Regions from separate parts of the Homo sapiens genome. Here region 2 is linked to region 1. Evidence: fine-mapped expression QTL. A gene starts in region 1. The other region holds a variant in brackets. All regions are shown on one strand. Distances are from middle to middle. Region 1 holds the start of THBS2-AS1 (THBS2 antisense RNA 1). Region 2 has its middle 4.6 kb from the start of LINC02544.

Region 1 (5,374 bases):
AGATGTTGAAAGGTATTTAATAAAATTCAACATCCATTCTGATTTTTAAAAAACTCTCAATAAATAAGGTATAGAAGGAATGTACTTCAACACAAGGAAGTCCATATATGATACACCCACATTTAATATCATACTAAACAAGGAAAAATGGAAAGGCTTTTCACTAAGATTGGAACAAGGCAAGGATGTCTGTTTTCACCACTTGTATTCAATATAATACTCAAAGTCCTGGCCAGAGCAATTAGACAAGAGAAAGAAAGTAAGGGTATCCACATTGGAAAAGGAAGACATCACATTATCCTTGTTTGCAGATGACACAATCTTATAGTTAGAAAAACCTAAAGACTACACACACACACACACACACACACACACACACACACACAAATCAGAACCAATAAATTAATAAAGTTTCAGAATAAAAAATGATCATATAAAAATCAGTAGCATTTATATACATTAACAGAGATCAATCTAAAAAGGAAATCAAGAAAGCAATCTCATTTACAGTAGGTACAAAAAACATACCTAGGAATATGTTTAACCAAGGAAGTAAAAGATCTCTACAAGGAAAACTATAAAACACTGATGAAAGAGAAGAAGAGGGTACACAGACACAAATGGAAAGATATCCCATGCTCATGGATTAGAAGAATGAATACTGTAAATCACCCAAAGTGATCAATAGATTCAATGTAATCTCTAGCAAAATACCAATGATGTTATTCACAGAAACAGAAAAAAGCATTCCTACAAGCGTAGGAAACCACAAAAGACTCCAAATAGCTAAAGCCATCCTGAGAAAAAAGAACAAAGCTGAAGACATCACACTGCCTGATTTCAAATTTTGCTACAAATGTATAGTAACCAGAACAGCACAGTACCAACACTAAAACAGACATGTGGACCAATGGAATAAAACGATGAATTCAGAAATAAATCCACGTACTTACAGCCAACTCATTTTTGGCAAAGACATCAAGAACATACATTGGGGAATGGACAGTCTCTTTGATAAATACTGCCAGGAAAGTTAGACATGCAGAAAAAAATGAATCGAGACCCCCCTCTTTTACCATATACATACATCAAATCAAAATGGATTAAAGACTTCAATGCAAGACCCAAAACGATAGAACTACTACTAAAAAATAATACGGAGAAACATTCCAGGACATTGATCTGGGTAAAGATTTTTTGGTAAGACCTCAACATTACAGACAACTATAACAAAAATAGAAAAATAGTATTATATCAAGCCAGAAAGCTTCTACACAGCAAAGGAAAAAATCAACGAAGTGAAGAGACAACCCACAGAATGGGAGAAAATATTTGCAAACTACCCATCCAACAAGGGATTAGTAATCAGAATATATAAGAAACTCAAACAACCCAATTAAAAACTGGGCAAAAGACCTAATAGACATTTCTCAAAAGAAATGGCCAACACGTACATGAAAAAAGGCTCAACATCACTAGTCATTATAGAAATGCAATTCAAAACCACAAGAAGATATTATCTGACCCCATTTAGAATTATCACAAAGACAAAAAATAGCAAATGCTGATGAGAAGGTGGAAAAAAAGGAACACTCATACACTGTTGGTAGGGATGTAAAGTAGTACACCCACTAGGGAAAACAGTATGGGGGTTCCTCAAAAAACTAAACTAGAACTACGTTTGGTATAGTCCAGCAATCTTACTGCTGGGTATGCATCTGACAGAAAGGAAATCAGTATATCAAAGAGACATCGGCCCTCTCATGTTTATTACAACACTACTCACAATAGCCAAGACATCGAATCAACCTAAGTGTTCATCAATAGGCGAAAGGACAAAGAAAATATTGTATATGCACACAATGGAATACTAGTCAGCCATAAAAAGGAATTAAATCCTGTCATTTGCAGCAGGATGGATAGATCTGAAGATCATTCTGTTATGTAAAATAAGCATGACACAGAAAGACAAATATTGCATGTTCTCATTCATATGTGGGAGCTAAAACAGTGGGTCTTGTGGATGTTGAGAGCAGGATGGCGGATGCCAGATGCTGGGGTGGAATGGTGGAGAGGAAGATGAAGGGGAGCTGGTTAAGGAGTACAAAAATACAGTCAGAAGGAATGAGCTATCACATGCAGTATAGTAGGAAAATTATGCTTAATAGTTTATTGTACATATCAAAATAGCTAGAAGAATTGTAATGTTCTCAATACAGAGAATAAAAATGTATGAGGTCATGGGTATCCCAATTACCCTAACTTTATCATTACACATTTTAAACAGATATCAAAATATCACATATAACCCAAGAATACTACAGATATTATAATGAATTAGAATTAAATCTTCCAAACTATACACGAGGGTGTCTTTCCATTTATATAGGTTTTAATTTATTTTGGCATTGTTTTTCTGTTTTCATAGTACAAGTCTTCTGCCTCCCAAGTTACATTTATTACGAGGTATTTTATTGTTTTGTATGTTATTGCAAATGGTATTGTACTTTTAACTTCCGTTTTAAATTGTTTCTGTCTGGTATACAGACGCACAACTGATTTCCATGTGTTGATCTTGTTCTCTGACACTTTGCCAACTTTTCCACTTCTTTAAAATCCAGAATAAGTATGGCCTGAGACAAGGGAGGTTTGTGTATTCATGATGCATATGTATAGTCACGTGTATGTTGCTTGCGTATATACCATTCAATAATCAATACATAAATATAAATAATATGTATCTCCATTTTAACAACTGTAATTTATTCCTAAAGCCATATTTAAAAATAATTACATTTTTAAATGGGAAAAGTCGTATGAAGAATTCTGTCCCACCTCAAGATAACTAAACAATTTTTCAGTAGAAAAATAAATCTAAAAACAGAAAAAATATTTTAAAAGTAAATAAATCGTACATAAAACGAAGCGCAATCGAGTTTTGTTGCACTAATGCTTTCTTCCTCTTTCTACACCATTTTGTTTGCAGAATCGGCCTTTTGAAGGTTCCGGGTTACCCTGCAGTGAAGCTGTCATTCAAGCACAGTCAGGGCCCAGGAGAGGGCGCAGGGAGGGCGCAGGCGCGCAGGGAGGGCTGGGCATGCGCTCGGCGGGGCCTCCGGCTCTCGGGGACGCGCGCGGGCGGGGCTCGCCGGGGCTGAACCGGCTGAGCTTCCCAGGGACGCCCCGACCCAAGCCCTGCAGTCCGCGCGCGTCAGGGGTGTGCGCTGGAGGCCGGAAAGTCGAATATCACTTCCCATCCTGCATTTGATGTGCTTTGGGGTTGAAAAAGCCCTTATGTGGTAAAAAAAAAAAAAAAAAAAAAGTCAGAAAAGTGGCAAAAGTCTTCAACGGCCTGAAAAAGGCCGAGACAGGAACTGAGAAGCTGGCAGTAGGTCCTGCTACTGCTGCAGGGGCGGCGGGCGCCCTGGGTGGGCCACGAGGCAGGGACAGCCGAGGCTCCGCGCTCACCCCACCCGCAAGGGGCCAAGCGCAGACTCAGGGGAGCCAGAGGGGCCGGACCGCTGAGCAAGGGCTGGGGAAGGGTGAGTCAGGGGCCCCTGTGGGACTGCACGGGGTGGGGGGCACGGGCCCGGACCTCTCTCACAAATGCCCACGTGGTCCCCAAGGCTAACGCCGGCTGCGTGGGCCGCAAGCTGCTCTGGGCCCGCAGCTCACTCCCCTGGGCACAGGGCTGACACCCGGGCGAAGCAGGAGTGTCCCAGCTTGCTTCAGCCCCTCCCCTGGGCCCCCAGGCTGGTGGCTCCAGAAGGACTTTACTAAGAGGGTGGGAAGCATCAGTGCAGGTACCTGCCCTGGGCTAAGGGCCTCGTGTGGGTGATAGCCCTCAGCAGGGCCCTCCCATTTGGGCATTGGCAGCCCACAGGGCTGTGGCCGTGGAGCTGGAGTGGCAGCTCCTGGATCACCCCACACCTGCGTTCCTCAAGGCCTAGGCACCACTTGCTCCATGGTCAAAAGCATCACTTTGTGAAACGCAGACTGAGCAAAGCTGGCCTAAGATTTTGGTCCTCCAGGAATGACGGAAGGAGCCCTCTGCCCCCATGTAGCCTATAGCTGGGACACGCAGCAGCCAGTGAGTTGGTCACGGTATGAAGGCTTCTCTCCTCCCGGCAATCACAGATCCCACGCTTGGATACTTGGGAGTGAAGATGTGTTATTTCACCCACCGACTCGTTCCACACGACCAAGGCCTGTGCCTGCCCTGAGGGCGAGTTGGTTGAGCCTTGTACAGACAACTCTCAGAGCGTGGGCCTGGGCCGAACCTTTCCCTGTGAGCAGCAGCATCAGCGTCTAGAACGACGGCCCTCCCGGTCCACGGTGGAAGGTGCGGAGCTCCCGTGGTGTGCTGGCAGCGATTCGCAGAAGGGAGATGGAGGGCCACAGGGCAGGTGCTCGCACGGAGTCATCGAGGTCCAGGGACACCTTCCTCCCAGGTGAGCTCACAAAGGCACCACACATTAATCCTGGGAGACAACCATTCTGATGTGGCTAAGGCCATCGACAGGGAACATGATTGTCAGGAAACCTCAACTTTTCGATAAATGACAGCAAAACCTGAATGCAGGAGAAATGTATCTCATTTTAATGCCTGACTTCTAAGCATCCTTATTCAACATATTATATGTATTTTTTGTTTCATGAGTAAAATGTACATTGAGCTTCCTCCAGTAGCTGTCCATAGACCAGCCACTATCACTGCCATCATTATTTTGTTTCTAAACTTTTCTTTTTACACATGTAGGTCTAGCTTTTTCCTCCATATTGATGAACTAAAACTCACTCATTTCACAACTCAAAGCCAGGGCCTTCAGTTCACAGCCCGTTGCCTCAGACGGCCTTTCCTATATCTTATTGCTTCACTGTCTGACTCACTCCAGCGTGTTTCAGCCAAGTATACTTGTTTTTATTCATCTTGCTCTCTTTTCCTCCCTCCCCCAACTCCCCCTCTTTCCCTCTGTCTCTTTGTCTCTTTCTCTCTCCCCCATCCCTCCCTCTCTTCCCCTTTCTCTCTGGATGCCCTCTCTCCCTCTCTCCCTCCCTCTCTTCCCCTTTCTCTCTGGATGCCCTCTCTCCCTCTCTCCCTCCCTCTCTTCCCCTTTCTCTCTGGATGCCCTCTCTCCCTCTCTCCCTGTTTTTCTTCTCTGTGTCTGCCTGCATAATATTCAGAAATCCCAACAAGAGCAGCTGGAGCTGCTAAAGAAACCCCAGCGTTCTGTGCTGCTGCCATTGCCTCCTCCAACTGGTGAGCCCGATCGGCCCATTTTTAGGCAGTGCTGTGGTTGGAAATGGGCCCTTCCTCTGGGGTCCGCTACTTCCCTCCACCTGACTCAGAAGAATGAGTCAAGAGGGAAGAACA
Region 2 (5,374 bases), 25 kb before region 1:
TGTGGAGACCAGCCCTTAATATTGCTCTGAAGACATTACATAAGTGGTTTTCAAGCTTCCAGAATTAATAGTTCTGGGATATCATTCAACAGAAACAGCTTCTAACCAAGGATCAGGATACCCAGCTCATGCCAGCAGCAGGGGCTCTGTCAACACCAACCCTCCAACTCCTTCAGGGACATTTGAGACCGAAAAACCAACCCTAGCAGTCCATCCAGGCAGTCGCCTGACCAGTTAGGAGATTTTATCTTTCCTTGCTCCCTTTCCCAAATATAAGGGTTAAAATTCTACCAGGAACAGTCGACAATTCCTTTGTGAGGACCAAGCCCAGTCTACTTTTCTTCTACGGCACCCCATTTCCACAAATTCTCCTCTCTGTTGCCAAAACTAGCAACCTCATGATGCCTTAGGGTGTCCCACAGCCGGCAGGCCCAGCTGGACGTGTCAATCACTGTGGCACCCACTGCGTCCCCACAGAGGTCAGAGACCCTCAGCCCCCCACCCCCCGGTATCACCCTTTATTCCCAAGCCTCTTACCAATGGGGCTGTACCGGACTGGCTGTCCATGCTGAACGGTGGGGAGGGGCTTCTGTACTCGCAGGGACCCTCCCCACTCGTGGGGTCAGTGCTGTTAATAGTGCCAGAGAGAGGCCATGGGGAGCACGTGGGGTGAATGGGGAGGTGGCCAACTGAGGCTGCCACAGCCACCGCTATGTCCACCCCTGTGGTCCGAGAGGGCCGGTCACTCCAGCGTGGCTTCTGCTCTCTCCAGAGTGGTGTCAGAGACTGTTTCAATGCGCTGGAAACCTGAAATGAAAGAGGTGCACAGGGCCGGACGCCGTGGCTCATGCCTGTAATCCCGGCACTTTGGGAGGCCGAGGCGGTCACGAGGTCAGGAGATCGAGACCATCCTGGCTAACATGGTGAAACCCCGTCTCTACTAAAAATACAAAAAATTAGCCGGGCGTGGTGGCAGAAGCCTGTAGTCCCAGCTACTAGGGAGGCTGAGGCAGGAGAATGGCGTGAACCCGGGAGGCGGAGTTTGCAGTGAGCCCAGATCGCACCACAGCACTCCAGCCTGAGCGACAGAACGAGACTCCATCTCAAAAAAAAAAAAGAAAAAAGAAAAAAGAAAGAGGTGCACAGGGCTGGCCACAGGGGCAGGCTGGAGACACGGCCCTTGCCACCGGGATCAGAAGGTCCCTCACTGTGTGCCGTGGTGATGCCCGGCCAAGCGAGGTGGCAGGGAGGCGGCCCCAGCACGCTGAATCCATTCCAAGGAGGCTGCTTCTGACCTGTGTCACCTGCTGTGACGTCAGAGCTGGGCCCCTACAGGCCACAGCCTGCTTTGCCAGAAAAATTCACTCAAAATTAGGCTTTTTGGACTAAAACTTGTTTTGTTTCTTACTATGATTACTAAGAAAGCCCAGGATACTCACATAGAACCGAAGCTCAGCCATTTCTCCTCTGAGTACACGTTGACATCACTGAAGCCAGGCACTGACCAAGCCTGAGTTCATGCAACACCATCAGCACACAGCCTGGTCTTGGCCTCCTCATGAGTTCTTTGCGAGGCCACGCATCCAGGTACCTGTGTTCCTGCACGGAGGCCTCTAGGTTCGCAGGAGACCCAAAGCAACGGGCCGTAGGCTCACTCAGGAGCAGCTCCTAGCTCCCCACTCCGCCACGGCCCTGCGGGAAACAGCGGAGGTAGAGATGTGGTGGTAAAGCAGAAGTGTGAGAAGCTACAGTCATTTTCCTTAGGGTTGGTAAATTTCGTGCCGGCCACCATGGCCATAGGCTTAACCCAAATTAATAAAGCCCAGTGTAAAGCGTGCTTAAGTTTATACACAAATAAAGTTAAACCCCAACTAAGCCATGAAAAGCTACCGCTAAAATAAAAACAAACTGTGAAAGTGACTTTAGTGTGTTCTGAGCATGACAGCTAAGACCCAGGCTGCGGTCAGCCACCCCCTACGCCTTGCCATGAGCTCAATAAAATGAGCAGTCACCGGCCCGAGTGCCGCCAGCAGCAGCCGGGACTGAGGGCAGCGCTTCGCTTCCTCGGAGGAGCCCACTGTGCCATCAACAAACCCTGAAGCCCCCACCGGCTGCTGCTGACCCGGCCACACGCCACCATCTTCAGCAAACCCTACGA[T/C]GGCCGCAGAGTGAGCACCAGCATTTACACAAAAACATCAGGTCCAGGGGTAGCTCTGAGGTGGAAAGAAATGGACCACAGAACATTCCACCCACAACAACCTTTACGAAATTAAAGGCCAAAGGAGGATGTGGCAGAAGTTAAGAACAGACAGCGTAACTGAACAGGGCCATGACCACACACACGCCACCCACCAGCCGCCTCAACCACCTCCACGGACAGAAGCTCAGGTGTGGTGGGGGTGAGCCTGACGAGGTGGGCATCCTGGAGAGCAGGTCCGGGGAAGCCCCGTGCAGCCTCTGCACGGCACCTGCTCACACCCGGGAGACTTCACATTGACTCCACCACTCTGAACACAAACTAGTCCCAAATCAACAAAACTTAGCAATTATATGTATTTAGACCAAAACATGTATTCACAACAAAAGGTATAAGAGATAGAAATTTATTTAGGTGCTACGGGACACGTACTGTAAGAGAAAGATGACAGAATAATTTAAAGTACAAAAAAAAGCAAAGCTAATCCCTTATACCATTTGCATAATAAATTTGCTAGAATGATTTTATGAAGAGAAATTTAGCTAAAACCTCTGAAAGCAGACAAGTTACTTATGGACGGTTGCAAGAACAAACTCTCCAATGTGGCAAAACGTGAGCAGAACCAAGAGCAGAGAAAAGCCATCCCGACCTGGTGATCCTGCTTATCCAGAAGAGAATCTCAGCTCAACTTTAAATTACCCCAAGAAGTATACATCTTAATGTAAGTTTAAATGTTGATCTAAAGAGGGACAGCTCCTTAGAAACAGGAAGCAACCTTTTATCCAGAGTAATTTATTAAATTTCTGGAGTTGTTTAAAAGTAGCCACCAAATAAGAGCGTGTTCAAGTTAAACACTCAGCAGACCTTAGTTTCAGCTCTCTCTCGCCTCTCTACATTTTACTGGATTAATCTATTTATAAGTAGAAGAAATACTGTTAACACAGTAACGAAGAGCAAATTCTCCTTGTATAAGCTTGTGTTAGATCACACATCCACTGATAGGCAACAACTGGATAAAACTAAACTAATTGAACGATTGTTTATTCAAATAATTGTGAACCCAACACAGCCATGCACTTAAAAAAGATTTAAAAAGTCAAAAGAGTCGAGCAAATGTAAACCCTGCAAATGACCGCAAAGCTGCGGGCAGGCTGTCACCCTGTCCCCCCGCTCCCCGTCCCCCCTGTCACTGTCCCCCATCCCCCTGTCCCCCATCCCTGTCCCCAGTAGAAGGCCACCAGCCATGGACAGCACGTGGCTGGTGCCTCCCACAGCTGCCCGACCTCCACACAGAGGAGAGCTCTGGAGAGGGAAGAGCCTCCACCATCCAGAGCAGACAGCATGGGGCGAGGGGGCGTCTCTGGACACTCACGGAGATGAACGAGGCCTGCTGGTGAGGCTGCCTCCAGCAACAGTGAGTGAGGAGGTGCTGCCGGGGTGTTGGGGACCGCTGTAGGTGCTCTCTGAGTCACATGAGGTTTTGAAGGGTTTTGAGGAGGTGAGAAGACACTCAGAGCTTTGTTTTCAGAAGATCCCTCCAGCTGCTGGTAGAGAATGGAGGGAAGTAGGCCTGGGAGCGGGAAGCCCACTGCCTCTGCCCCAAGCTGCAGAGTGGCCATGGGGTTGGAGGGAAGGAAACTGAGCCCCAGTGTCCCAGGAGGCCTTGGAGACTGGCTGGATTGGAGGGGAGGGAGGGAGAATGCCAGAGGAAGACTGACAGCTCAGTCTGGAGACAGGTGAGCAGTGGGTTTGCAGCTGTTCCCTGCAGTGCTACCCACAAGGGTCCCCAGCGACAGCAAAGCATGACACCAAGGAAGCTCACATTTTGAGAATTTTACTTATAAATATCAAAACCACATGGACTCTGGTGACGTCATAATTCACGGTAAACCTCAGCTTTTAAACCAGAGGCTCAGACAATGGTGTGAGTCGCTGACTCACTCGGCAGCTGCAAAGTAAGGGGCGAGCTTGTTTTCCTTGAGCACCTGCTTAGGAGTCCTTTCACAGAGGTTTTTTTTTTTTTGGAGATGGAGTCTCATTGTGTCACCCAGGCTGGAGTGCAGTGGTGCCATCTCAGCTCACTGCAACCTCCACCTCCCAGGTTCAAATAATTCTCCTGTCTCAGCCTCCTAAGTAGCTGGGATAACAGGCATGCACCACCACACCTGGCTGATTTTTGTATTTTTAGTAGAGACCGGGTTTCACTATATTGGTCAGGCTGGTCTTGAACTCCTAACCTCAGGTGACCCACCTGCCTCAGCCTCCCAAAGTGCTGGGATTATAGACATGAGCTACCACGCCCAGCCAGGAGTCCTTTCACAGAAGTTCTGTTTCACAGTAGCACATGGTATACATTGTGGGGCTAGAACGAAGAAAGTGCAACGTTTCCCATATTTTTTGTCTGTTGGAAATGTTACACTAGACACACATCAATTAAGGTGACAGAAAAACTTGTGCAGCCTCCTGGAACAGTGAGCCTTTTTCCTTCTCGATCACTGGGAATAGACATCAATGGGGTTTTGCATATTTCCCTCTCACAGAAATCCTACTGGGCACTTCAGCGTAGCTTACACAGAAAGGCAGGTGCTGCACTCATCACCGAGGGCAAAGAGACACTCACAATGGCAGCTGAGCCGCGGGTGGGGTGTGCTGGGCAGAGCATCAGCTCCTGGGCTAGGGAGCGCAGGGGTGCAGGAGTTGATTTGGGATCCCATAGCTTCACTGGAACACTTTGTAAACTGCAAAATTGTATTTTTTGCAAGGTGGAATTTATTTACTCCTTTCATTTTCTGGGCTTCATTATTCAAATAATTAGTTAAGAGGATCAAAATATGTGTGTGATACTCAGCACATCAGACAATATTCTGCTTCTCATGGGCAAACACAGGGGTGTGAAATTCCTTATCGTTAATAAAAGCAGCTCTGTGGGACCCGTTACGTCCCCAAGCCGGAGCACCACGCTCCTGTGTGGCCTTCCCTTGTGGTTGTCGAATGTTGTCGTTGTTTGCCAAATGTTGGAATGCTTCTCTGTAAAAGAGTTTCTGGGAAAGTACCAAATCCTGAGCCCTGAATTCGTCCCTACTCTATTCACATCCTCCTCACTCCTCAGGACCTGTGAGCCTCAGAGCCACCAGGCAGGGCCTTAGCCTGCATTGTCAACACCACAGCCCCCTACCT

What was found. PIP is the estimated chance that this variant, and not a neighbour inherited with it, causes the effect. A credible set is the group of variants that fine-mapping cannot tell apart.
Region 2: its variant is the best candidate, but not a certain one, in a credible set for the expression of THBS2-AS1 in whole blood (TOPMed, PIP 0.64).

The regions. Positions count from the first base shown.
Region 1 is chr6:169,210,037-169,215,410 of GRCh38, forward strand. THBS2-AS1 (THBS2 antisense RNA 1) reads left to right here and starts at 3,176. Exons shown (of 3, transcript NR_134621.1): 1 at 3,176-3,542; 2 at 4,138-4,451. RefSeq lists a silencer at 2,915-3,264.
Region 2 is chr6:169,184,634-169,190,007 of GRCh38, forward strand. No RefSeq gene overlaps it. Among named protein-coding and RNA genes, the nearest start is that of LINC02544, 4.6 kb to the left of the region's middle. RefSeq lists enhancers at 669-1,168, 3,205-3,706, 3,707-4,206. The variant T/C (reference allele first, on the strand shown) is at 2,159.